Linked DNA regions of Homo sapiens. The protein of the gene in region 1 purifies or fractionates together with the protein of each later gene. This does not show direct contact. Each region holds a gene or a part of one and is shown on either strand. Other genes may lie near its edges.

Region 1 (4,031 bases):
AGGCACAGACAGGCCACATATACACCTCGGCTTCCTCCTCGGGAAGAAACAGGGATGAAGGAGGAAGGAGGGGTTTCCTGAAACCATAGCCCAGCTCACACACCTGGACTTCCCCAACCCCAGAGCTCCCAACGCTGGGTCCAGGCTAGAATCTCCTAGAGATTCAGAGGCAGCACAGGGCAGGGTTCGAATCCTAGCCAACCCAACCCTAAAAATCTACAAATCTGAGGCCAGGTGCAGTGGCTCACATCTATAATCCAGCACCTTGGGGATCTGAGGCAGGAAGGTCACTTGAGGCCCACAGTTAAGACCAGCCTGGGCAACATATCAAAACCCCATATCTAGAAAAATGACAAAAATTAGCCAGGCATGCTGGCGGGTGCCTGTAGTCCCAGCTACTCGGGAGGCTGAGGTGGGAGGATTGCTTGAACTGGGGAGGTCGACATTGTAGCGAGCGGAGATCACACCACTGTACTCTAGCCTGGGTGACAAAGCGAGATCCTGTCTCTCAAAACAAGAAAAAAAGAAAAAGAAAAGACTACAAATCTGTCTGATTGTTGACTTCCAGAACCCTTCCAAATGCCAGCAGGTGGCATCTGGATGTCTGGGGGCACATCGTAGGTTTTCGGGTCCTGGAATTATTTTCAATATAGAGATGGAATCTCACTATGTTGCCCAGGCTGGTCTCAAACTCCTGGGTTCCAGCGATCCGCCCCCCTCGGCCTCTGGAAGTACAGGAGTGAGCCACTGCGCCGACCCCAGCTTCAGGAATCTTTGAACTCCCCGCAGAGAGCAGAGGTGCCGCAAGGTTTAACCTGCCTCCCTCCCTCCTTATCGCCATGGGCTTATCCAATCATTTCTTCACGGAACACACGTGGGCCAACGCTGACCGGGCTCTGTGCCAGGAACCCGCAAGGCGCTGCTTGTTCATCTCCAGCCACGGGGAGCTCATTCCCTAGCAGCGGGCCAGACCCAAGGTGGGGTCGTGAGCCCCGAGAGGGGCGAGGGTGGCAAGAGCGGGATGGCAGAGGTGGCAGCCGGGACCGGAGAGGGGAAGAGGCATGGCCGGGGAGGGAGGAGCCGGCAGAGAACTTCGCCTGGGCCACCAGGAAACTCAGCCGAGCTGGGAAGAGGGGGACTGGCAAGCGGCCAAGGCGGAGGGAGGCAGGAAGGCGTGAGGCCCGGTGGGAGGGAGGAAGCGGGAGAGGGGCGGGAGCTCTGGCTCAGGTAAAAACTCTTTCTTCGGCTCGCGAGCTGAGAGGAGCAGGTAGAGGGGCAGAGGCGGGACTGTCGTCTGGGGGTGAGTGTCGGCAGCCCCCGGAGGATCTGGCGGACCCCAGTGGTGGGGGTTTGGGGGTGGGGAAGTTGTGGCTCTGGAGAAGCCCCTGCCGGTCTCCACCGCGCATACCCTGCAGATGTGGGAACATTCGGGAGCCCCGAGTCTCGAGAACCCGGTTGCCCTCACCCATCCGTAATTGTCTCCGGCGTTCCCAAGGCCAGCTCGGACCTGGGTCGGGGAGGAAGCCTCCCCCACAGCTGGCGACCCGGGACCCCGGCGCCCCTCCCAGATTGGGCGGGATCAGACCCCCGAGGCGGATGCCGCTTAGTCAGACTTGGCTGTTACTGTTACCTGTGTTGTTGAGATTATTGGCCCCTTGGTTGGGAGTATCTGGGCAAGCCAGCGCTGGGGTCCCCGGTTGGGTTTGGGAACTGCAGGTGACCCCCAGTCTCTCCCTGCGGTTCCGGTGCTGCAGGCCCTGCCAGGTGGCTGGGCGGCATTCCAGGGGCCCTGGCTGCGTGGCATGGACACATTGCTGAACCGGCCTCAGTTTCCCCTCCGTGAGGTGGAACAATGAACCAGCTGGGATGAGGATGCCCGAAGCGTTTAGTCAAAGGAAATTTTTGTGATGAGGTGTACTGCTGGCCACTGGGGGCCCTTGCGTGACTGGCGTTAGGTCTCTGAGCCTCAGTTTCCCTGTGTGTTAAGGGGGGGTCTCATGGCATGGGACCTTGGCGAGGATGAGTTGAGTGGATAGGAGCTGTGGCCACTCAGTGGGTGCCCAGGGACAGTCAGCTGTCATCATAATTATATTAATTATGTCTGTAGCCACTGTTCAGATTCACTCCTGTTCCAAGAATCCCGACCATCTTTTCCTCTGGGTCAGATTTAAACTTTTTGTTTGTTTGTTTTATTTGTAGAGGTGGGGGACTCACTTTGTCACCCAGGCTGGAGTACAGTGGCTCCATGCACTGTATTCACTGCAGCCTCAACCTCCTGGGCTCAAGTGATCCTCCCACCTCAGCCTCCCGAGTAGCTGGGACTACAGGTGCACACCACAGGCAGCTAATTTTAAAATTTTTTTGTGTGTGGAGACGGGGTCTCACTATGTTGTCCAGGCTGGTCTCAAACTCCTGGGCCCAAGCAATCCTCCTGCCTTGGCATCTGAAAGTGCTGGGATTTCAGGCATGAGCCACTATGCCCAGCTCTGATTTTTTTAAATGGACACTTCTCAAGAGGAAACTGAGGTCGCCCCTCAACTTGGGCGGGGGACTCCTGCAGTCCAGATCTGGGATTCAGGGCCCATGGGAAGCCACCTGGCCGTCTAGGTCTGGGGCCAGCCCTGGGGGCCATCACTTCCTCCCACTGGCCTGTTCTCAAGGTGACACCAGGCAGGGCTGGTGTCAGGAGGAAGAGGTGTGGCCCCCAGGTCAGGCAGCTGGGCCCCCATATGGCCTAGGTGAGCAGTTGGGTGTTTGCTCAGTCCAGCCTGGACACCCTCCCTCACTCTCACCCCTAGGGTGTGGCATTTCCTGGCAGGTGCTCTGGGTGTGGGAGAACCAAAAGGGGGCCTTGGTGCTTCTCTGTTCCAGGCCAGAGTTCAGGAATCCAGACAAGCCAGGTCAGCCCAGGAGGAGCAAGTAAGGGCTCACTGAGTGACATTTCCTCCTGCCACCAGCCTCTGAGGCCCAGAGCAAGCAGGAATTTGCTCACTCCCCCAACCCCATGAGCCAGGGAGGATGCCTATTGTGGACCCTCTTCCTGGTGGGAATCTGGCTTGCCTTGATTGCTCCTCATGATGGTGAGGTCACTACCAACGTGGCAAACTAAAGGAAATCTCATCAGCTGGGAGTTAAAGACAGGAACTAGGCTCCCACCCAACCTTTCTTAGGTGGATTTCTAGGCCTCTCTGTGCCTCAATTTTCCTATCCATAAAAATGGAGCTAATGCAGCCCTACTTCTCAGCACACATATAGAGTTTAGATGGACAGATGGTGGCCAGGCTGCACACAGGACCTGGCATATTGATCCTAGTCCTAATTATGCAGCTCATTATGTTATCATTTATAGCATGTATCTTTGCACACAGAAATAATATCATGAATATTTCTGAGCTCTAAGTACAAGACTTGGAGAAGAGCTCTGACCAGCCTGAAGGTGTGGGGGTCCAGGAAGTCCCCAGAGGAGGGGCCCAGGAGACCTCAGTTCCCCCATCACTCCTGGATTGTGGGAAGGGTCTGAGGTTGAACTGCGATGCACGGCCTGGCTTCCCAGCCTGTTTCCCCATCTATGGAGTGAGCCCAAAGATGCCCTTTGAGACTCCACTGGGCCAGGGCTGGTGTTATTCAGGGGCCCCTTTCCAGTCTCACATAGGTGCCCCAGGCAGTTCCTGCAATGGGGTAGGGCTGGCATGGATGACATACAATTAGTCATCCATGACAGAGCCTCGGGACCTAGAAACCCGGGACACCAAAGTCTAAAGTGCATGTGTCACCGTGCCCAACCCCACCCCTTTTTCCATACCCAGGCACTCCCTGGTGCAGATATTGAGTATATATTGACAGAGAACTCACTAGTACACATGGTTTCACTAAAGCAGGGTCCGGCCATTGTGAACTTAAAGGATTTACTGGGCTATTTCTTCTTCTTTTCTTCCCCTTCTGTTTGCAAAAGCAACTCCTGCTCCTTGTAAAAAGGGACCAGCCTATCATTACTGGGAAACCCAAACTGGTAAGAACTGGTGAGGAACCAC
Region 2 (3,500 bases), on another chromosome or scaffold:
GAATATAAAGATGAGGTAGAAGGGGCTAGATAGTCACAAAATAAATAATCAGCTTAAGTTGACTCTGCATATATATTGAGGGGTAAGTTTGGAAACCCTGAGTCTGGACTGTGTTCTTGAAATAAGTATCATTTATTGCATTTTTAAAATAGCCACACTACTGAGGACATGTTTTCTTTGGCGTTGTCTCTTTCAGATCTTAAATGCTGCCTATCATGTTGAAGTCACGTTTCACTCAGGGTCGTCAGTTACAAGGATGCTATGGGAGCAAATCAAACAGGTAGGGATTATTACTTAGAGAAAGATTTCAAAGCCCCTAGTTGGCTCAAATGAATCATAGTGACCCCAGTAGGAAACAGATATCTAGGATCTTCTGTTAAGGCAGGGTGACCATTTGTTCTGGTTTGCCTGCCTGGGAGAATTCTGGTTTATGCCTATTCTTAAATAATTATTAACATTGTTCCCTTGAACTCTCAGAAGTTTTGGGTTTAAATGATTTTTATGTTGGGTGCTCTTTGTGGACAATGGAAAAATAGAAAAAAAAGATAAATGATATTTCATGGAGCCATAAGACTCTACCACACTAGCTTCTTCATATTTCTTTTTCCCAGCCTAAATCTTTTCTCAGAACTAGGCTTTGTTGTTGCCAGAGGCTGTGAATGTGGTTTCTGTTCTGGAATTTGATCTGGCTCTTATGTAGAGTTATTTACTGACTTCAGAAAGATTATCAGGCACTCCCTGGCACTGAATGTAATATATTGAGGGTTTGTGAGCATGTAGACTAGGCCTGGTGTTCTTTGATGCTTTTCTCTGGGCTAGGACCTGATTTTGTGGTAGATGGAATTGGAAAGGAACTTTGGACTTCGTATGGCTCCCATCTTATGAGCCTGCTCTTAATGAATGGGTAACCCAGAAAAGGAAGGACACTGGATCTTTGTAGTGGTTCTTGTCTCTCATTCCTTGGTGATCTCGCTGTCTTCATCCTGGTAGATCATCCAGCGCATCACATGGGTGAGCCCACCTGCCATCACTCTGGAATGGAAGAGGAAGGTGGCCCAGGAAGCCATTGAGAGCCTCAGCGCCTCCAAATTGGCTAAGAGCATTTGCAGCCAATTCCGGACTCGGCTCAATAGTTCCCACGAGGCTTTTGCAGCCTCCTTGCGGCAGGTTGGTATGTAGGAAAGGAGATACAGCTGGATCAAGCAGAGAAGAGCCTCATCCAGATGGGAATATTTCGCTCTCCGCTCTTCATATATAATATGTGTGTGTGTCTGTGTGTGTATACATATATATACACATATATATACACACACACACATATGTATATTAAAATCATCAGTATATTTTCTTTCTAGATTGTTATAGGAAGTTTTTTCAATAAATTTTTCATGTGGATATTTTCCTAACTCTCGGGAGAATGGAGTGAGCTCAGTTAATTCCTGCCCATTTCAGAGTGAGGAAAGATAATAGGAGTAGGAATTTTGTATGTTTATATAGTATTTTAGGAACAAATGACAGAAGGACATGACTTTCCAACTTCTATATTTCATAATTGTTTGACATCTGATTGTCCACTGGCGGGGAGTGGGTGTGTCCAGGCAGAGAGTGGATAGATGTGAGTATGCATCCAGGAGGAAAAGTTATTATTTATTGAGAGTCTACTCTGTGCCAGTCTCTGTGCTAAACATGTTACATGTATCTTGTTTAATTCTCACAATTATCTATATGAAGTAGATATTATTATCCCTGTATAACAGGTGAGGAAGCTGAAGCTAGGGACTTAAGTCATATGTACTTTTTCTGTTTCTCTCCCAGCTGGAAGCTGGCCACTCAGGCCGGTTAGAGAAAACGGAAGATCTATGGCTGAGGGTTCGGAAAGATCATGCTCCCCGCCTGGCCCGCCTTTCTCTGGAAAGCTGTTCTTTACAGGATGTCTTGCTTCATCGTGAGTCTGGTTTTCTTCTAGATAAACTGGAGGATGGTTCAGGATACCTGACATTCTTATGTCCAGCCTCAGAGAATCCTAGTGTCTAAAGCTGCTTCTTTGCAAAGCTGCCTAAACCCTTACTGATGTTTTTGAATTCCTAAAGTCTCTTCCTGCTATTTATATAGTTCAAATAACATGACCAGGCCAGGTGTGGTGGCTCACACCTGTAATCTTAGTACTTTGGGAGGCTGAGGTGGGTGGACTGCCTGAGCTCAGAAGTTCAAGACCAGCCTAGGCGATATGGCAAGACCCCATCTCTACTAAAAAAATTAGCTGGGCGTGGTGGCACTTTGCAACCCCAGCTCCTCAGGAGGCTCAGGCAGAAGATTCACTTGAACCCAGGAAGTAGAGGTTGCAGTGAGCCAAGATCATACCACTGCACTGCAGCCTGGGTGACAGAGCAAGACTCTGTCTCCAAAAAAAAAAACAACAAAAAACAAAAAACCACATAACCACAGTTTATTTGAATTAAACCAGTTAGATTATTTTCTATTGGGTTAGAATGACACTAGAATTTTATCCCTGGGCTTGATTACAGCTTCCTGACCCTAAAGGCAGGTTCACAATGAAGAATGTTACAGGGCCAGCATGGTGGCTTATGCCTGTAATCCCAGTACTTTGGGAGGCCACGGTGGGTGGATCACTTGAGCCCAGGAGTTCGGGACCACCCTGGGCAATGTGGCAAAACCCCGTCTCTAATAAAACTGTAAAAATTAGCTGTGCGTGGTGGCGTATGCCTGTAATCCCAACTACTTGGGAGCCTGAGGCAGAATAATCGCTTGAACCCAGGAGGCAGAGGTTGCAGTGAGCAGAGATCATGCCACTGCACTCCTGCTTGGGTGACAGAACAAGACTCTGTCTCAAAAAAAAAAAAAAAGAATCTTACAGAGGTTGCCCACGAAGTTCCCATTCCTCCTGCCTTATCTCTGTCTCTGTACCTTATAGGTAAACCTAAACTGGGACAGGAACTGGGCCGGGGCCAGTATGGTGTGGTATACCTGTGTGACAACTGGGGAGGACACTTCCCTTGTGCCCTCAAATCAGTTGTCCCTCCAGATGAGAAGCACTGGAATGATCTGGCTTTGGAATTTCACTATATGAGGTGGGTCCTGGCCTCATTCATCTCTATGAGAAAGATCCAGAGAAGAATCTAGAACCCTGGTTTAGATTTTGTACCAAGAGCTACAGCATGGCCTCTCTATATTTAGTTTTCTGTGTCTAACAGACATGTGCTCCCTTTCAGGCCTTTACTGTCTTTGCTTGCTCTTTCCCCACCATCCTAATTTCTCAGACTCATCATTCCATTTAACTTTCTTCTTTAGTCCTTAAGCCTTATCAGTTTTTAGAATCCAGGATTCTTCATCCTTGTTGAAGAGGCCATGCTCTGTCTGTACTGAGGGCTCTGTCTGCACTGAGGGCCATTACCTCTGGACCTGTCCTAAGCATGGTCTGGAAATTATTGTCTCATACATTGTGGCATGGCATGCAGGATTAGAGCCCAAGCCTTGTAGCC
Region 3 (3,500 bases), on another chromosome or scaffold:
TCTCCTGAGGAGCCTCTGGTGCCATCTCACTGCCTACCTAATGCTCTGAAACGGAAATGAGTGTGGCAAATCTCTGGTTAATAGACCCACTCTCCCAGGATTAGTGAGAAGGCTGGAAGCAGGCGGGCTCTGTCTCCTGCTGAGACACCCCTCTCCTCAGAGGGTAATGGAAGGTCAGCCCCGGCAGGGTCCACTGCCCACGGCTCAGCAAGAACCCCCCAAGGCAGGGCCTGGGATTGTCCCTCAGCCAGGAACGCAGGCACCTGATCCTCCGGCAAAGCTGGGGCCCCTCAGAGGCTGTGCAGACGACAGGCTCCCCATAGCCTTGCGGACATCCTTACCCCCACTGCAGTGCGCCTCCCAGCCTCCCTTCACACAGCTCCTTGTCTTCCTGCTGCTGCCAGGCCTCCCAGGAGGGAAGCAGACAGAGGAGCCTCTTGGACACATCCGGTGGGGGGCACACTGAGGGGTGCTGGCTGAGGGAGTGGGGTCTGGGCACCAGGATCCAGTGGGCAACCACATTGAGGGGTGCTGGCGGAGGGTGTGGGGATCTGGGCACCAGGATCCAGTGGGGAACCACACTGAGGGGTGCTGGCGGAGGGTGTGGGGGTCTGGACACCAGGAAACAGGACTCCAGGGCTCTTCTGGAGCCGGGGCCTGGGAGCAGTTCCGGGAAGAGCCTTGGACTGCTGCCTCCCAGCCAGTGAGTCCCTCAGAGCACAGTGGGAGGAGCGGCAGGGCTGCAGAGGCTGGAGCCACTCACAGGGGCAGGGCCTGTACCGGCTCCAGGCTGAGGGTCCTCTGAGCCCCTGGGCAGGAATCCTGCCCTACCCCTCATGGGCTCTGCCTCAACAATGTCCCTTCCCTCCCTCAAGCTTAAGATCTGTGTGGGGACGCTGCCCCAGGTGGGCAGAGCCTGGACCTGCAGCTCCTTTGCCCACAGCAGCAATGGGATGAAAGTGCCATGGCTGCTGCAGGGGACACCATGCAGCCTGAGCTCAGGCCCGGGCTCTTAAAGCCCAACCAGAACTACTTCAGGTGGTGGGGGCGGGGGAGCCGATTCCAGAACCCACGGCTCACACAGAAGGCTGAAGGGCTGGACAGCTGCCATAGGGCTCTGCTGTCCAGGCACCCGCGGTGGAGACCGCACCATCCTCGCTCGTTGCAACCAGTGGAGTGAGAGGAGTCCACCTGTCCTGAGCATGTCGAGGACGCCCCCTACCAACATCCTGGGGAGCAGTACTGTCCCCCTGCTATCTTTTGCGGGGCAGTCGCCCACTTTGGCAGAACAGGGAAGGTAGCTGTTTCGGTGAGTTGGCAGGGCTGCTTGGGCAGGACCAAGGAAGGGCCATTCCTCAGGGCTGTGGTCAGTCCAGTCCAGGCCAGGTGGGGGAGCCATGGCACTTCCTATCACTCCCTCCGTTCCTGGTCATGTGGCCCACAGGGAGTGGGAACCCGCGAGGGTCATGGGTGGGCTGGGCTCTGATGTGGCAAAAGGAGGCGTGAGGGAGTGCTGTGGCCGCCTCCCGGTGGAGTGGACTGCTACAAAGCCTGGGGGCCTGGGAGGCATTCCCCAGAGGCCGCCATGGCGGTCCACACCACGGGTCCTGGCCGTGCTCAGGGACACCCCCAGGAAGGCTCCCCGAAGCTCAGTGAGGAGTTTCTGCTTGTGTCCAAGCTCAACCTGCTGTCACCATCTGGGCCATCTTTCTCTTGCCAAGACCTCATGAATGAGGGTCCTCGAGTTCCTCTGACCGCCCAAGGGAGGCATCAGGCCTGGCGCAGCAATGCGCTCGGAGCCGGCTGCCTGCCACAGGCTGCTTCCACTTTTCTGTTCGGAGCCGGCTGCCTGCCACAGGCTGCTTCCACTTCTCTGAGCAGGTGTCCATCTTTTGTGCAGCCCCGTCCCCACCCCAGGCACAGGGACTGTGGAAGGAAGGCCCTCCCCAAACCCCTGGTCTTTCCTCCAGCCTCCTTCAAACACCAGGGCCAGGAGGAGGGCCACCCACCACCACCTGTGCCCACTCACACGCGCTTCTGGCTTAGCAGCTGGTTCCAGACCTCCACCACGAAGCCATCGAAATGCTGGTTCTGAAAGAAGCAGTCACAGGTGAGGAGGGCCTGGAGGCCCAGGAGGGATGGGTGGAAAGACAAGAAGCCCGCCACCTCGGCCCACATGGTCAGGTTGTGGCCTGGTCACTCACGAGGCAAGACCCAAGCCTGGGCTGTATGCCCAGAAGGGCCTGTCTGAAGGAGGAAGTGTGGGGGTCCCAGAGGAACAGGAGTGGAGGGGCCAGTGGTCTCGTGCATTCTGCCGACCCATGCACCTCCCCCAACCCCACCCCGGGGGTCTGGGGGCTCCCTGACCCGAGGCCCAGGCATACTGGCAGCCAGCAGGGCTGGGTCCCCTCCCAGGAGGGTAGCAGGCAGCTGGGCTTTGCCCAAGGGAAGAACCCTGGCCCAGCAGACAGGTCTCCCATGCCTGGGACCTCCAGAGGACCCATGGTCAAGAAAGCGAGCAGCAGCCTGAGCCTGGCTGATGCTGCCTTCCCTGGAAGATGGGGGCTGCACCAGAAGGTGCCCAGGGCAGAAGACAGAAAAGCCGAGTGGAGGCCTCGCGGGAGGCCCAGCCAGACGGCCAGGTGGGACCCGGGGGGCTGTGCTCAGAGGCTGGAGCAGCACACAGGTCTCACCTTTGCCACCTGGACCACGGTCTTGCTCAGCTCCTCTATCTCATCCTCACTGTCTAAGACGTTCCGGAAATCATCGTAAGTCCAGTCCTCAAACAGGAGCCGAGGCACTGCAGGGGCAACAGACACACACGGGGGCCGTGACTGGGAGATGCTGGAGGGCCCCTGCTGTTTGCTGCCTCAAAAAGGCATCCCCTTGGCCTCCAGAGGGAAGTGAGACCAGACAGTGAGGGGCAGGGAGGCCACCTGGAGCACCCACATGTCCAGAGAGGATGTCCCAGAGCCTCACAGGCTGGAGAGGGAGGGGTGGTGGGGAAGGAGCGAGCAGACACTGACAGTCCTGGTCCCCTGACACCAGCTCCCCACACGGCTCAGCATGGTTGTGGCCCCACCTTACAGGAGGGAGGCTGGGACAGACTCTGGCTGCTCCAGCTCAGCCCTGTCACCTGCTTCTAGCATCCCCCAGAGTCTCTCCCTTGGCAACTTGTGCTCTTAATCCACTGCCTCTGAGGCTGCTACTGGACGTGGGGACACATGTCCCCCCTTCCCCAGCCGTGAGCTACAGGGGCACAGATGGGCCAGGGTCAGCATCACCCTCAGGCCAAGCCCAGGGCTTGGCCCCAGCTGCCCTGATAGGACTCATCATGTGAATGAAGGAAGAAATGGGATTGAGAACAATTAGGGCAATGCCACTGGCCAAGGAGGTGCTGGCTTTGGAGGGCCACAGCCTGTGTGGGGAGGAGAGCTCAGGACTCCAGCCAGACTAAGGGCTGTGAATGCCAGGCCAGGGCCAGCCTCATCTCTGAGCGG
Region 4 (2,432 bases), on another chromosome or scaffold:
TAAAATTGAAGCGGCTTCATTGTTCTGAAGCCATTACTGCACTGGGATATCCAGAGAGCTGAAGGAGGGTCCCGGGGGCCCCTGGGCTCCAGGTCCATGGGTTTGCCTCGCATAGGCCTGGGCTTGTGCTTGAGAACTGCCATGCAGTGAGCTCCAGTATGCCCCCGGGTTCTAGATTTCCAAATAAAAGAGCATTTCGGAAAGTTTTAAGACTCTCTTAAGGAACAGTGGTGAGGTGCCAACGTCCTCACTGTCCAGCTTCACGGTGGGTCCTCGGGAGGAAGGGGATGGAGGTGGTGCTGCCTCAGTGCTCTGACCGGGACACCTGGGGCCCAGCACTGCTCTGCGCCTGCAGTGCTGAGGATGCCTCTGTCTCGACCCCGCCCTCCAGGGGCACAGGACGACCTGAGGAAGGTCACCCGCATCGCCTACTCCATGGTGAAGCAGTTTGGGATGGCACCTGGCATCGGGCCCATCTCCTTCCCTGAGGCGCAGGAGGGCCTCATGGGCATCGGGCGGCGCCCCTTCAGCCAAGGCCTGCAGCAGATGATGGACCATGTGAGTCGGCTCTGGCCACACCGCTGCCCTCTGTGCTCCCCGGGGAGGGAGTCCCTGGGTCTACCACACAAGGGTCGCCCACGGCCGCCCCAGCGGAGCTCAGCTGCAGGCCCCACCTGGGTTTCTTCCTTCTGGGCTCTGCTGTAGTTCCCACCTGTGGAGTATTTTCTTCTCAAATGAGGACATAGATGCTCCTAATGAAATTATAGATGTGAATCTGGGAAGAATATCAAATAAATACACCGAGCAATAGACCCAGGGCCCACATGTCCTTCAGACTGGGCCAGGAAGGGCCGATGTGTGCCTGTGAGGCAGCTGTGGGTGGGTGTGGGTGGGTGGGCTGGCATGCGGAGCCCTGCTTTCCTGGCACTGGTCACAGGGGCAGGAGACCACCTGTCGGCTGAGGAGTCCTGTTCCTCCTGGGAGGGGAAAGGCCGTGTTCCCAGTCTGCCATTTCTTTTCTGTGCTTTGGTGCTGGAGCCAGGCGGCCAGCCTTGCCCCTGACACAGTTCCCTCCACTCACAGGAAGCAAGACTGCTGGTGGCCAAGGCCTACAGACACACCGAGAAGGTGCTGCAGGACAACCTGGACAAGTTGCAGGCGGTGAGGCCCTGGCCAGGCGTGGGGGCTACGGCGTCACACAGTGTCCACACAGCACCCACGGTCCCCACCCCTCTCGTGAAGTATTTCCAAGGCACACAGAGTACAGAGAACACTCTGACCGATGTGAATTCTACCCAGCTCAACTGAAACTTACGTGTTCCATACTTTTTATCCTGAACTCGTCAAGTGTGTTCCCCCGAGGTAGAAAGAAGGCTGCCACAGTCTCCTGTGCCTCTTCCTGCCATTAGCAATTACCAATGTTTTGTCAGTTTTGTTTAATCTTTTCCCAAGTCTTACACTTTTTTCTTGAACATTTTTTTAAAACAAAGCTTTAATTTTAGAGTAGGAATTTTTTTTTCTTTTTTTTTTTGAGACAAAGTCTTGCTCTGTCACCCAGGCTGGAGTGCGATGGCGACATCTTGGCTCACTGCAACCTCTGCCTCCCGGGTTCCAGTGATTCTCCTGCCTCAGCCTCCCGAGTAGCTGCGACTGCAGGCATGCACCAACACACTCGGCTTTTCTTTTTTTTTTTTTTTTGAGATGGAGTCTCTCTCTGTCACGAGGCTGGAGTGCAGTGGTGCAATCTCAGCTTACTGCCACCTCCACCTCCCCAGTTCAAGCATTCTCCTGTCTCAGCCTCCCAAGTGTCTGGGATTACAGGCACGCGTCACCATGCCCAGCTAATTTTTGTATTTTTAGTAGAGGTGGGGTTTTACCACATTGGCCAGGCTGGTCTTGAACTCCTGACCTCAGGTGATCCGCCTGCCTCGGCCTCCCCAAGTGTTGGGATTACAGGCGTGAGCCACAGCCCCACGCTGATTATAGTGTTAGATGTAGAAAAGTTGCAGGCGCGGTGCAGAGAGCTCCCTGCCACCCTGCCTCGCTCCCGTGGAGGCCCCCATGGGGCAGTCCTCCCACCTGAGGAGCCCCCGCCGACCCGCGGTGTTGGGTCCACACGTGATTCAGATGTGCTGAGTCTCCCCAGTGTCCTTTCCGGTCTTGGGAGTCCACATGGCGTTTGATCGCCCATCTTCTTAGGCTCCTCTGGGGTGACAGTTCCTCAGACCTCCCTTGTTTTGAGGGCTCTGGCAGTTTTGAGGATTGGTCTCATGTTTTGTAGGACGTTCCTCAGTTGCGATTGTCTGATGTGTTTCTCACAGTGGGCAGAGCTGGAGTGAACGTTTTTGTCCCTGGGTTTGGTAACTGCTGCTTAGAACTCAGGAGAGGTGCACGGCTCTTTGTCCCATGTTGTGAACAGATGGGTAGGCAGT
Region 5 (3,500 bases), on another chromosome or scaffold:
GACACAATATTTTATAGAGGAAAGAAAAATGCCTTATCATAAAATTATTTTGGTACTAAACTAACTCTGAGTCCAAAGATGACTTGCCTTGTACTGAATCCCATTCCTTGGGATAATGGGCTTTTGTTGGGTTCTAGTGGAATGGTTTGAAAGTAATGTTAAAATGGTGGATGTGAAAGACTCTACCAACATTTTTACCAAATGTATATTTATTTGTAATCTATTATATTTATTTGTTGAATAATTTGCATGTATATCTTGATTAAACTACTCATGGAAAATCATAATGCCTTTTTTTCAAGATTTCAAAGCACTTACAGTCTGTTAATTCTGAATGTAGGTAGTTATATAGCATCAATATTAAGCCTCCTTTAAACTAAGACATCAGAGTACCGTCATACTTCTCTTGCTCCTCTTTGTCAATCCATGGGAAAATGAGAATGTTCTTCAGGACTTCGGTTTCTCAAGATGCTTCTCAGACTGGTCAGTGCTTTTCTGGCCTTAAAAATGTATATCTGTTGTTTTGTAAATACTCTAAACATTTTCTGTGACTAGATAAAACATATCCTCTTTACATATTCATGCCATTTGCCAGTAGAGGAAGGAAGCATAGCTTGAAACTTACTACGTTGCTGTTGGTGTTGGGCTTCCTGAGTTCAAATCCTGGTCCCACCACCTACCTGGTGTATGTTTTTTAAAATGGAACCATCTGGCTCACTAGCAGGAAACTAGGGTTAGAGTCCCAAGTGCTATTTTTTAAATTATTTTCCAATAATTCTCCTTCTCTTTGATCATCTTAGAGGCTGTTCGCAGTATTAGAACAGAGATTACTTTTGCAGTTTCATCCCTTTCATAGGGAGCATAGAATACTTATACATGTGACCATATTCTGAAACATTGCCCACTATTCAAACCAAGGTAATTATTATTACCTGAAACATGTAACATTGGCCTTTCATTAATGCAATTTCAAATTTAAATTGATAAATACAATGTATTATCCAATGCAGGAAATGTGAATAAGCTCCTCGTTTTGTTTTTTCTAGGTGAAGATGCCAGATGTGGAGCTCTTTGTTAATTTGGGAGACTGGCCTTTGGAAAAAAAGAAATCCAATTCAAACATCCATCCGATCTTTTCCTGGTGTGGCTCCACAGATTCCAAGGATATCGTGATGCCTACGTACGATTTGACTGATTCTGTTCTGGAAACCATGGGCCGGTGAGAGATAAGTCAGGGTTGGCCCAGAGCCTTGGTTTTCTTTCTTTGGTGAGTTCTTTTGCAACAACCTTTGTGATATGATGATTTGGGAGGAAAATCTGTTGCACTTTGTCTTCTAGGGTAAGTCTGGATATGATGTCCGTGCAAGCTAACACGGGTCCTCCCTGGGAAAGCAAAAATTCCACTGCCGTCTGGAGAGGGCGAGACAGCCGCAAAGAGAGACTCGAGCTGGTTAAACTCAGTAGAAAACACCCAGAACTCATAGACGCTGCTTTCACCAACTTTTTCTTCTTTAAACACGATGAAAACCTGTATGGTCCCATTGTGAAACATATTTCATTTTTTGATTTCTTCAAGGTATGACTTAATCAGTAGCTAATCTTTTTTGTTTTTCTAATGTATTTGTACATAGTGCTTTGGGAAGGGAAATTAAGGCCTGCAAATTTCAAGAGGTGGGAGAAGTTAGCACAAAATTGAGCGAATATTGAGACATGGGGGTGCTGGGGACTGTTTTGGCAACCAGGGTCTGCCCTCACTGCCCAGTCTTGATATTAAATGCGCATCAAGGGAGTTTGGAGCCTGGATAGAGCTATAATTTTTTTCCAGCTAACCCTTGAGATAAGCACATGTCACCTCCAAATATGTTTTTATTAATACTTACATGTAAGTCATTTTACAAATACTTTTTCCCAGAGCCATGTTATCACAACAGAATAAGGAAGATATAAACTACTTGTTTCTTACCAGGCCTTCTGGTGGGGAATGACGTGAAACTCATCCAAATGTTCTGTCTGGGAATTAGGGTTTGCTTTCTCTGTCTAGAATGTGGATTCCGCATGGTTCCTGGGGAGTAGTCCTTTTTCTAACAACTCCTTTTATAAGGCAGTGGGCACCACCCTGCTCTTTAGACCATGGAGTTGTTTCTGAAGTCCCCCATGGTAGAGAGAGAGGTGGGAAAAAGGTCATCATCTGTCCTCTGTATGTGGGAAGACAAGTGATTAACGAGTTCTGTCTGCCCTGTAGATGACCAAATTTTCTTTTGATGGGTTTTGTTGAGGCAGGTTGACCTAAATGTTAACCTTGTTCAATGTTAAAGTTGAATTGTCAGTATTTTTCTATATGCATATCCCAAAGATTTTTGAAAGAAATGATTATAACCAAAGTGAAAGGATACTAGCCAACCTTCCTCAGTGGAGGGGTGCTCCATCCTGCCTTGGCTTTATTCCTGCCTGTTGAATTTTCTGCAACTAAAGATGATAGATTACCACAGTTCTATGAATATTTTTATTCATAGGTGTTCTTGCTCCAGAGCTTGCTAATTTCTTTAAGACATATGTCTGGGTGTTTAAAAAATACGGTTAGCCAGGCGTGATGGCTCACGCCTGTAATCCTAGCACTTTGGGAGGCTGAGGCAGGCAGATCACCTGAGTTCCAGGGTTCGAGACCAGCCTGGCCAACATGGTGAAACCGCATCTCTACTAAAAATACAAAAATTAGCTGGGCGTGGTGGTGCGTGCCTCTAATGCCAGCGACTGGGGATGCTGAGGCACAAGAATCACTTGATCCCAGGAGGTGGAAGTTGCAGTGAGCTGAGATCACGCCACTACACTCCAGCCTGAGTGACAGAGCAAGACTCTGTCTCAAAATAAATACATAAATAATACGGTTAACATGGCTCAGAATATGCCATCATTAGGGGCACATTTGCAATCAATAAAGTAGCAGGAGAATTACAAAAAGTCACAAATGAATCCATCCTTCCTTATGTTGCAGCCTTAGGACAGCAGTATGATTGTATTCGCTGCTTCAACACTAGATTTGTATCCTTTGTAAAATTGAGAAGCACATCAAAATGAGCATTTAGCTCTAGATCAACCTGTTGTTTAATAACACTTACTAAACGGCAAAGGCAGAGCGTGGAAGCTGACCAAATTGTGTCTGAGGATTGCAAAGGTTTATGTGTGGGATGGGAAGGAGAATAGAGTGGAGAAAAGGAGATTTAATAGAGGTTCTTAGACTTTACCATTGTTTTGCAGCATAAGTATCAAATAAATATCGATGGCACTGTAGCAGCTTATCGCCTGCCATATTTGCTAGTTGGTGACAGTGTTGTGCTGAAGCAGGATTCCATCTACTATGAACATTTTTACAATGAGCTGCAGCCCTGGAAACACTACATTCCAGTTAAGAGCAACCTGAGCGATCTGCTAGAAAAACTTAAATGGGCGAAAGATCACGATGAAGAGGTAAGGTTAGTCCCCTTGAAGGCTTATTTCCACTT
Region 6 (3,500 bases), on another chromosome or scaffold:
GTCCAAGGATACATTGCACACATGGATGAAATGCCCACCTAAAAGGATGTATGTCTTAAAGTTCCCTCCATGCTGCCATTTGCAAAGCCCAGTCAATATTAGTTTAGCTGGGGTAGAGAAGTGGTCCTAAAATTAAATATTATACAAGTGTATACTTAATTTGATCTGTACTTTATATGAAGAACTATATAGTGGACCTCATCAGTTTTTGTTCCAAATTTAATTTTTAAAAGGAAACTTTAAAAGGCTTTATAGCTAAGTCATTTCTGACAAATTTACTGAAAATATCAGAACAGTTCCTTGCAATACAGAGTAATGATTTTTAAAAAAATATTTACATTCTTATAATTTGGTTAAATAAATGACCCAGGTTTTCACTTTTGGGCTGAGATCAAGCATGAGAAGGAAATGTCTTAGAAAATGAAGACCTTAACAACTAACATAGATATTTTTAAATGGAATGCTCTTCTCATTAACTACAGCAAGTCTATGTAAATGTAACTGGGAGTCTATAGCAGAGCAGCAGACTTACTCCTAAAGAGCCATATAGTAAATATTTTGGCTTTGTTGGCCAGGAGACAAAATGGAGACCATTATGGTAGGTACTTATATGACCATTTAAAATATTAACATTTAAAAATGTAAAAACTATTCTTAGCCTAAGGTTCATTTCAAAAATCGGCATTTGGCGGAGATCTAGCCCAAGAGCCATAGCTTGCAAATACCTGCTCTATAGTAATCAGTGTTATAGAGAGAAATCAAACTATAGTCTGTGGTAAAATGCCTCTACTGGCAAAAATCCAGACTTTGAAACAATGAAATAATATGAATCTCCACATATTTGGGTTCCCTTTAACTTTGCGTAAGGCAAGAACATGGAACAGTAAATGGGAAATAAATTGAAAAAAGACAGAAAGAAATGTTTGTTCTCTAATCATGGTGTTTAAAAAAATAAAATTAGTCCTAATGTCAAAAATAAGTCTGACTTAGGAAAAAAGCAAAACAAAGCAAAAAAATAGTATGTGTATCTTTTAGTGATTTTATATACTGTATTTATTTCATTTTGTTTTATTTTTTTGAGACAGGGTCTTGCCCTGTTGCCCAGGCTGGAGTGCAGTGGTATGATCATAGCTCACTGCAACCTCATACTCCTGGGCTCAAGCGATCTTCCTCCCTCAGTCTCCCAAGTAGCTGGGATTACAGGTGCATGTTGCTGCACTCTGCTAATTTGTTGTTGTTGTTGTTGTTGTTTTTTTTTTTTTTTTTTTTTAGAAGAGACAGTCTCACTATGTTGACCAGGCTGGTCTTGAACTCCTGGCCTCAAGCCTCAGCCTCCCAAAGTGCTGGGGGACTATAGGCGTGAGCCACCGCGCCTGGCCATATACTGGGTTAAGAAACGTAAATATATGCCCTTGGAATGAAAAGAGTGTGGTTGAGATCTCTGTTTAGATAATCTGCATATAATTTTTTTTTTTTTTTTTTTTTTTTTTGGAGACGGAGTCTCGCTCCCTCACCCAGGCTGGAGTGCAGTGGGGCAATCTTGGCTCACTGCAAGCTCTGCCTCCCAGGTTCACGCCATTCTCCTGCCTCAGCCTCCCAAGTAGCTGGGACTACAGGCGCCTGCCACCACGCCCAGCTAATTTTTTGTATTTTTAGTAGATACGGGGTTTCACCGTGTTAGCCAGGATGATCTCGATCTCCTGACCTCGTGATCCGCCTGCCTCAGCCTCCCAAAGTGCTGGGATTACCGGCATGAGCCACCGCACCCAGGCTGTATAATTTTTTTTTTTTTTTACAATGCCAAATCTGTTGTAAGTGATTTGACGGCCTGATTGGTAGCTCTTACTGTTTCTAAACTCAAGAGAAAACCTAAATTACTCTCTGAAAAAAAAAAACAAGCATCTAAGAAAGCTTCCTGAATAAGTCCTCACATAGTCTTGAATAGTTTTTAATTATAGCCTCAGTTAGGATGATCTAACAATTTTTTCCCTAAAGAGTGATTTATCCTATATTGCCCTTTAATAACTTTTAAAGTGTTATTTTCATAGAAATTTGGTTCCATATACCTACTCTGGACCATGGAGCATAGCCCTCACTTTTAAAGCCAAAATTCCTTGTACTGTAAATTTGGCAGCATTTATTCAGTCATCATTGTAACCATGATTTCCTTATTTCTCATTATTGCAGTTTACTCTTTATTAAAGAAAATTGCAGAGAGAAAAGATGTACTCAAAGAGAAAGAACTGGACTCCTAGGGAGTTAAAAGCCCTGTTATTCTTTGCTCATTTGTTATATAGTCTTGTGGTTAGGCCAAGTGAATTAGCTTAGGGCTTAATTATTTATTTTCCAAAGAGCTCCTCAGCTTTGAGGAGCATGTACGTGTTCCAGAGGATGGTATTCATTATAAGCCAGTGCAGTTTCCCATACTGTGACAGGATTGGGTTCTGATTTATTTAAAAGATAAAAGGGATTAAGTGCAATGTCTTCCTTCTATTCTAGCTTCAATGAGTGTTTCTGTTTCCTTAATTTCTTCATATACATTTAGTTGACTGACATATTCCTTGCTTAATGCCCGAAGTCACAAAGGGAAACAAAAGTTTTTTTTTAAATTGAGATGATTGATGATAAAAAGGGTGTCCTTAATGCTTTAAATATTTGGTTCTTTGAAGTCTTTGTAAGTGATTTCAGTTATTGTGTTCCCTTCACTAGATTTAATATCAGAGGAACAACAATAGGTGATAGAATAATGAGGTAATTCAGTATGTTCCTTCATAATTTTTTTTTTATGATGGATTTGCCAGGTCTTCTTTTGCCACAGCTAACCACCTTTCCTATTAACAGTTAATACTCCCTTTGGACTTACTGAATTCTAAGTGCTAAGCATTGTAAAGCAGGTCGCTTTCCACAAACTATATTTAGCTGCATGCACTGCATGGGGATAGAATGAAAAGAAATTTCCTGTGTGCAGACTGATGTTCACTTCAAATATGTCATATGGCAAAGTAACTATAATCTGAAATGATGTACTTTAAGTATCAGTTACTCTTTTTGGATATTTTGTTGAAGAATGCAATTTATGTTTTTTAAATTTGATTGGGATAACAATTACCAACTTTTTGTTATTCGTATATGCTCCTTTTCCTTGAGCTCAATAACTAAAAATGTACTTGAATCTAAATCTGTGTATAGGTTTCTGATTTTTGCAAGAAAGTTGTTTCCTTATAAATAGTTTAGAAATAGTGTCACATATCAAGATGATATATAAGCCTCAAGCACTTCTCTATTTGGGACATATTTTTGAGTAGATCTTTAAAGTGAACCTCAATGACATCAGTCACCTACTGAAAACCTGTTTTGCTGACAAAATCAACCTTGTACTTAACTCTAGAGGCATATATCTGTTATTTACCATCAGTTTCTAAAACAGTTGAACATGAAACATATAGCAACAATCAGAAATGTAAAGTTTGTAGAGTTCCTAATGAAAAATACAGAAGTCA
Region 7 (3,500 bases), on another chromosome or scaffold:
CTTCCTAGCTGGCTCTGGAGGTCTCTTCCCTGTCTCCAGGACAGATGGGTCAGATTCTAGCCTCTTATAGTACAGAGGCCACAGTGGAACTGTGGGTATAATTCCAACTGTCTACCTCCTGCACAGGCACTATGAGTATGCCCATTTTACAGATGGGGAACCTGAGCTGCAGAAGCCTGTGAGATGCAAAGCCAGGATTTGGCCCAGCTGGTCTGACTGCAAGCCTGGGGCCTCTCTTTTGCTCTGCTGACACCCCTGGTATGGTCCCGGGGTTTCCCAGCCCCGAGGTGGGTCTTGGCCAGCCTCACCTGCCCTCCTTGTTGCTGGGTTACCCATAGAACCTTCTGTCCTAGTTTGCTGTGGAGGGTGAAGGATAGTGTGGAGCTTACAGAGTGAACTCTCATCTCCTACCACTCCGTGAGGTGGGAAAAGAAAATGAGGTTGAATGTTCCCAACTTCTCCAGGCAGGAATGGGGCCAGAGCTAGAATGCAAACTGGGCTGGCCCCAGAGATGTCCACCTGATACAGCTTCTGAGCAGCGGCCTGGGCTGACCAGTGGAGAGCCCCTCCTAGGGAACAGCTGGGATCCTGGACAAGGACCAGGCCTGCCCCAGCAGGAGGCCCTGTCACAGGGAGATAACAGGCCCCTGCCCCTGCCCATGACCACCGGGGGCGGTCACCCACGGCCACTGACCTCTGTGGCCTTCAAAGCTTCGTAAACAATTAACTCCAGAGTTTCAATCTCTCCAGTTTGTATCTTTCCAGACAATTAGTGATTTGCTCTGATGGCCCTCCTGTTGGGCCTTTTAACGTTCTCTGTGTAAATAATCCTAGGCAGCTGTGCTGGTCACGTGTGGCCTTCAAAGGCAGGCCAGGTGCAGGCTGTCGGGAGCTGCCTCTCACTGAAGCCCTGGCCCCGCGGTCAGTCTCCCCATGGCACGCGGACAGCTGCTGACGGCTCGCTCTCCAGATGAGGAACTGGGCCTGCACTAGGCTGCAGAATGCTAAGGGGTTATGAGTGGCCATGGCTCCCATAAGACATGGACACAGTCCGTGGCTGAGGGATCATGCGGTCACCACGGTCACAGTTAATAAGTCACTGGTTCCTCTACAGAACCAAATGGCAGACTGCCACCCCCCTTTTAGAGATGGGAAGACTGAGGCTCAGACAGGTATCTATCTGGGCCCATGAGACCCACCGGCTCCAGCCACAAGGTAGGAGGGGCTGCCCAGGGCACTCCTCTCTTCCTTGGACTCCCAGCAGAGCTTTCCAGAAGCCCACCCAACACACAGCCCAGGGCCTGAGCAGGCAGCTGAATCCCTATGGATTCCCTGCCCTCCACCGCAGCCTCAGCGCCTGGTCTGCACAGAGAGGACCCAAGACCTCCCGAGGTGGCCCCGTGGAACTTGCGGCGTGTCACCCCCACAGGCATCCCCCCGCAGTGAGCTGGGCCCCAGCCCCAGCCCCAGACCACACGCTGTGTGAGTCAAGGAATCAAGGACCAACAGTGGGGTAGGTGTGAGGCCCCAAAGGTCCTGAGCCCTAGAGGGAGTTCAGGGCAGAGGCACCGCGGCAGCAGAAGGCCACAAGCTGGTGGGGACAGGTGCAAATCCTTAGCGCAGCTCCCAGCACCCACAGAGCTGGCTCAGGAGCAACTGGTGGCATGGAGGGGGAGAGCTGTCCTGGATGGTTTTTGCTCCATGGTCAAGGAAAACAGCCCCATCTTCACCACGGCTGGGGTAGGATGTGTGTGGTCTCTGGTGGCTGGACATCCTCCCTCTGCCCACCTGTGGATCCTAAATGTCCTCTAACAGCCTCCACCCTGGGTTGGGTGGTCTGGGATCAGCACTTGAACACTCCTGTGTGGGCGTGTACCTGCCATGTTTTTCCAAAACAACATCCCTTGCAAGCTGGGGACTTGGGACAATGCCCTATCAGGAAAGGGGCACTTTCAGGAAAGGAACAAAGAGATTAGGCCACAAGTCCCACAGTCAGAAAGCAACTGGCCTGCTTGCAGGGGCCCCTCTCCACTCATGCCGTCCCATCTCCACTGCCCCCCCTTGCTGTGAGTGGCGGGGTCTCGCATGATGTGTCTGAAACCCAACTGTGCTTTCTGAGTGCTGCTTCCACTCCACACCCCGCTCATCCTGCAAAACCCTGTGTGTGGGAGGCTTTTCCACTCCCTCAGGGCACTGCAGCCCACACCTCTGGCTACCACCAGCTCACTGTCATTTGGCTGGAGCAACCTCATCCCCTAGGTCTAGGACTATTTTTTTCAGCATAACATACCCCACCCAAACCCAAAACAGACAGCAAATCTTCACAGAGCCAACTGAGTTTCTGAGAAGGCAAGAACAGTCTTAAGAGATGAAAACCTTCTTGCAAACAAAATGTCACCTCACCTATAAATACTGCTGTGGAGTGGGCCTCAAGGAGAGGAGAGCAGGTGCCAGTGAGTGTCCAGGTGGCTGCAGAGAAGTGCCCGAAAAGTGCTGGCAGGGGATGGCCCGAGTCTGCCTCCCGCCTGAATCATGCAGCCCTTCCAGTGGGGCTCCCATCTGACTGGGCCCCACATGCTACCACTCAGTAACTGCTCCCCAGAGCTCGGCTTCTCATGCTCTTCCCGCCTCAAACCCAAAGACCCACCACACGCTACCACCAAGTGGGGATTGAGCCCAGTCCTGCTGCCTCCGTGATGCTTGAGGTCTGACCTAGAAACACCCCACAGTCTTTCATAGAGGGGGTATGCAGCCCCACAAAATGCCACATGGGATGGTGATGGCACCCAGAGAGGGAAGCTGAGGGGTTGGGGAGACTCCTGGGTTTCCCATCTCCTCACCCTCCAGCATTCACTGGGGCAGAGCAAGGACACTGGAGCAGAGGGATGGCCTAGACCCACCTGCACCCACACAGGCTCACAGCACTGCCTCCTGCAGGGCTGATCCTCCCTGGGCCGGTGGTGGCATCGGTGGTGCAGGACCAGAGGAGTACCTGAAAACAGCCCAATCTTATGGGGGAGGTGGCAGAAGGGGTGGCCACACTGCGCCAGGAGCCAAGCACCGCCATGGGCAGTCTCTGCTGCCAGGGGCCGACTCTCAGGCAGCCTTGCCAGCACTACCTTTGCAGAGCCCAGAGCCCAGGCATGATGCCTGTCCTTCTGCTCTGAGTGAAGGCTGCCAGGTGTCTTCCAGTAAACGCAACGACACAGGCCTACATGTGAAACTGCCCATGTCTGCCCAGGTCTCAGAAGCCCTAGTGTTCTACATCTGGCTGGTCTGGGCCAGCGGCAATCGCCCCCACCTGCAGACAGCCTTCCATGCGCATGCAGGGGTTGCTGGGAGCAGAGGGCTGGGTGCGGCATACAGCCTTCAGGACAGACAGACAGATGTCCACATGCTAGCTCCTGGCCCTCCAGGCTGAGGGACTGACACATTCTCCACCTTCTCTGGGGCCTGACTTCCTTGTGTGGAAAATGGGGCTGCTCTTCATATACTTGTCT

What was found.
Region 2: the proteins of B3GNT3 (region 1) and DSTYK purify together in Homo sapiens (affinity purification with mass spectrometry, with the first as the bait; one large-scale study listed by BioGRID). This does not show direct contact.
Region 3: the proteins of B3GNT3 (region 1) and CHID1 purify together in Homo sapiens (affinity purification with mass spectrometry; one large-scale study listed by BioGRID and IntAct). This does not show direct contact.
Region 4: the proteins of B3GNT3 (region 1) and SPG7 purify together in Homo sapiens (affinity purification with mass spectrometry; one large-scale study listed by BioGRID and IntAct). This does not show direct contact.
Region 5: the proteins of B3GNT3 (region 1) and POGLUT2 purify together in Homo sapiens (affinity purification with mass spectrometry; 2 studies listed by BioGRID and IntAct, with this or other methods). This does not show direct contact.
Region 6: the proteins of B3GNT3 (region 1) and DCAF6 purify together in Homo sapiens (affinity purification with mass spectrometry; one large-scale study listed by BioGRID and IntAct). This does not show direct contact.
Region 7: the proteins of B3GNT3 (region 1) and HS6ST1 purify together in Homo sapiens (affinity purification with mass spectrometry; 3 studies listed by BioGRID and IntAct, with this or other methods). This does not show direct contact.

Annotation. Positions count from the first base shown.
Region 1 is NC_000019.10:17,793,907-17,797,937, forward strand, and holds the start of B3GNT3 (N-acetyllactosaminide beta-1,3-N-acetylglucosaminyltransferase 3), read left to right. Parts: upstream 1-1,231; 5' UTR 1,232-1,300; exon of another isoform or gene 1,301-4,009; intron 4,010-4,031. UniProt on the Homo sapiens protein: Beta-1,3-N-acetylglucosaminyltransferase involved in the synthesis of poly-N-acetyllactosamine. Has activity for type 2 oligosaccharides.
Region 2 is NC_000001.11:205,159,703-205,163,202, reverse strand, and holds part of DSTYK (dual serine/threonine and tyrosine protein kinase), read left to right. Parts: intron 1-196; coding exon 197-280; intron 281-990; coding exon 991-1,167; intron 1,168-1,815; coding exon 1,816-1,945; intron 1,946-2,932; coding exon 2,933-3,089; intron 3,090-3,500. UniProt on the Homo sapiens protein: Acts as a positive regulator of ERK phosphorylation downstream of fibroblast growth factor-receptor activation. Involved in the regulation of both caspase-dependent apoptosis and caspase-independent cell death.
Region 3 is NC_000011.10:897,311-900,810, forward strand, and holds part of CHID1 (chitinase domain-containing protein 1 isoform a precursor), read right to left. Parts: intron 2,801-3,500; coding exon 2,694-2,800; intron 2,092-2,693; coding exon 2,030-2,091; intron 1-2,029.
Region 4 is NC_000016.10:89,553,403-89,555,834, forward strand, and holds part of SPG7 (mitochondrial inner membrane m-AAA protease component paraplegin isoform 1 precursor), read left to right. Parts: intron 1-391; coding exon 392-558; intron 559-1,083; coding exon 1,084-1,161; intron 1,162-2,432. UniProt on the Homo sapiens protein: Catalytic component of the m-AAA protease, a protease that plays a key role in proteostasis of inner mitochondrial membrane proteins, and which is essential for axonal and neuron development.
Region 5 is NC_000013.11:102,788,977-102,792,476, reverse strand, and holds part of POGLUT2 (protein O-glucosyltransferase 2 isoform 1 precursor), read left to right. Parts: intron 1-340; exon of another isoform or gene 341-468; coding exon of another isoform or gene 469-483; intron 484-1,046; coding exon 1,047-1,219; intron 1,220-1,338; coding exon 1,339-1,576; intron 1,577-3,255; coding exon 3,256-3,465; intron 3,466-3,500. UniProt on the Homo sapiens protein: Protein glucosyltransferase that catalyzes the transfer of glucose from UDP-glucose to a serine residue within the consensus sequence peptide C-X-N-T-X-G-S-F-X-C. Can also catalyze the transfer of xylose from UDP-xylose but less efficiently.
Region 6 is NC_000001.11:168,048,183-168,051,682, forward strand, and holds part of DCAF6 (DDB1- and CUL4-associated factor 6), read left to right. Parts: intron 1-2,709; coding exon 2,710-2,751; intron 2,752-3,500. UniProt on the Homo sapiens protein: Ligand-dependent coactivator of nuclear receptors. Enhance transcriptional activity of the nuclear receptors NR3C1 and AR. May function as a substrate receptor for CUL4-DDB1 E3 ubiquitin-protein ligase complex.
Region 7 is NC_000002.12:128,308,869-128,312,368, forward strand, and holds part of HS6ST1 (heparan-sulfate 6-O-sulfotransferase 1), read right to left. Parts: intron 1-3,500. UniProt on the Homo sapiens protein: 6-O-sulfation enzyme which catalyzes the transfer of sulfate from 3'-phosphoadenosine 5'-phosphosulfate (PAPS) to position 6 of the N-sulfoglucosamine residue (GlcNS) of heparan sulfate.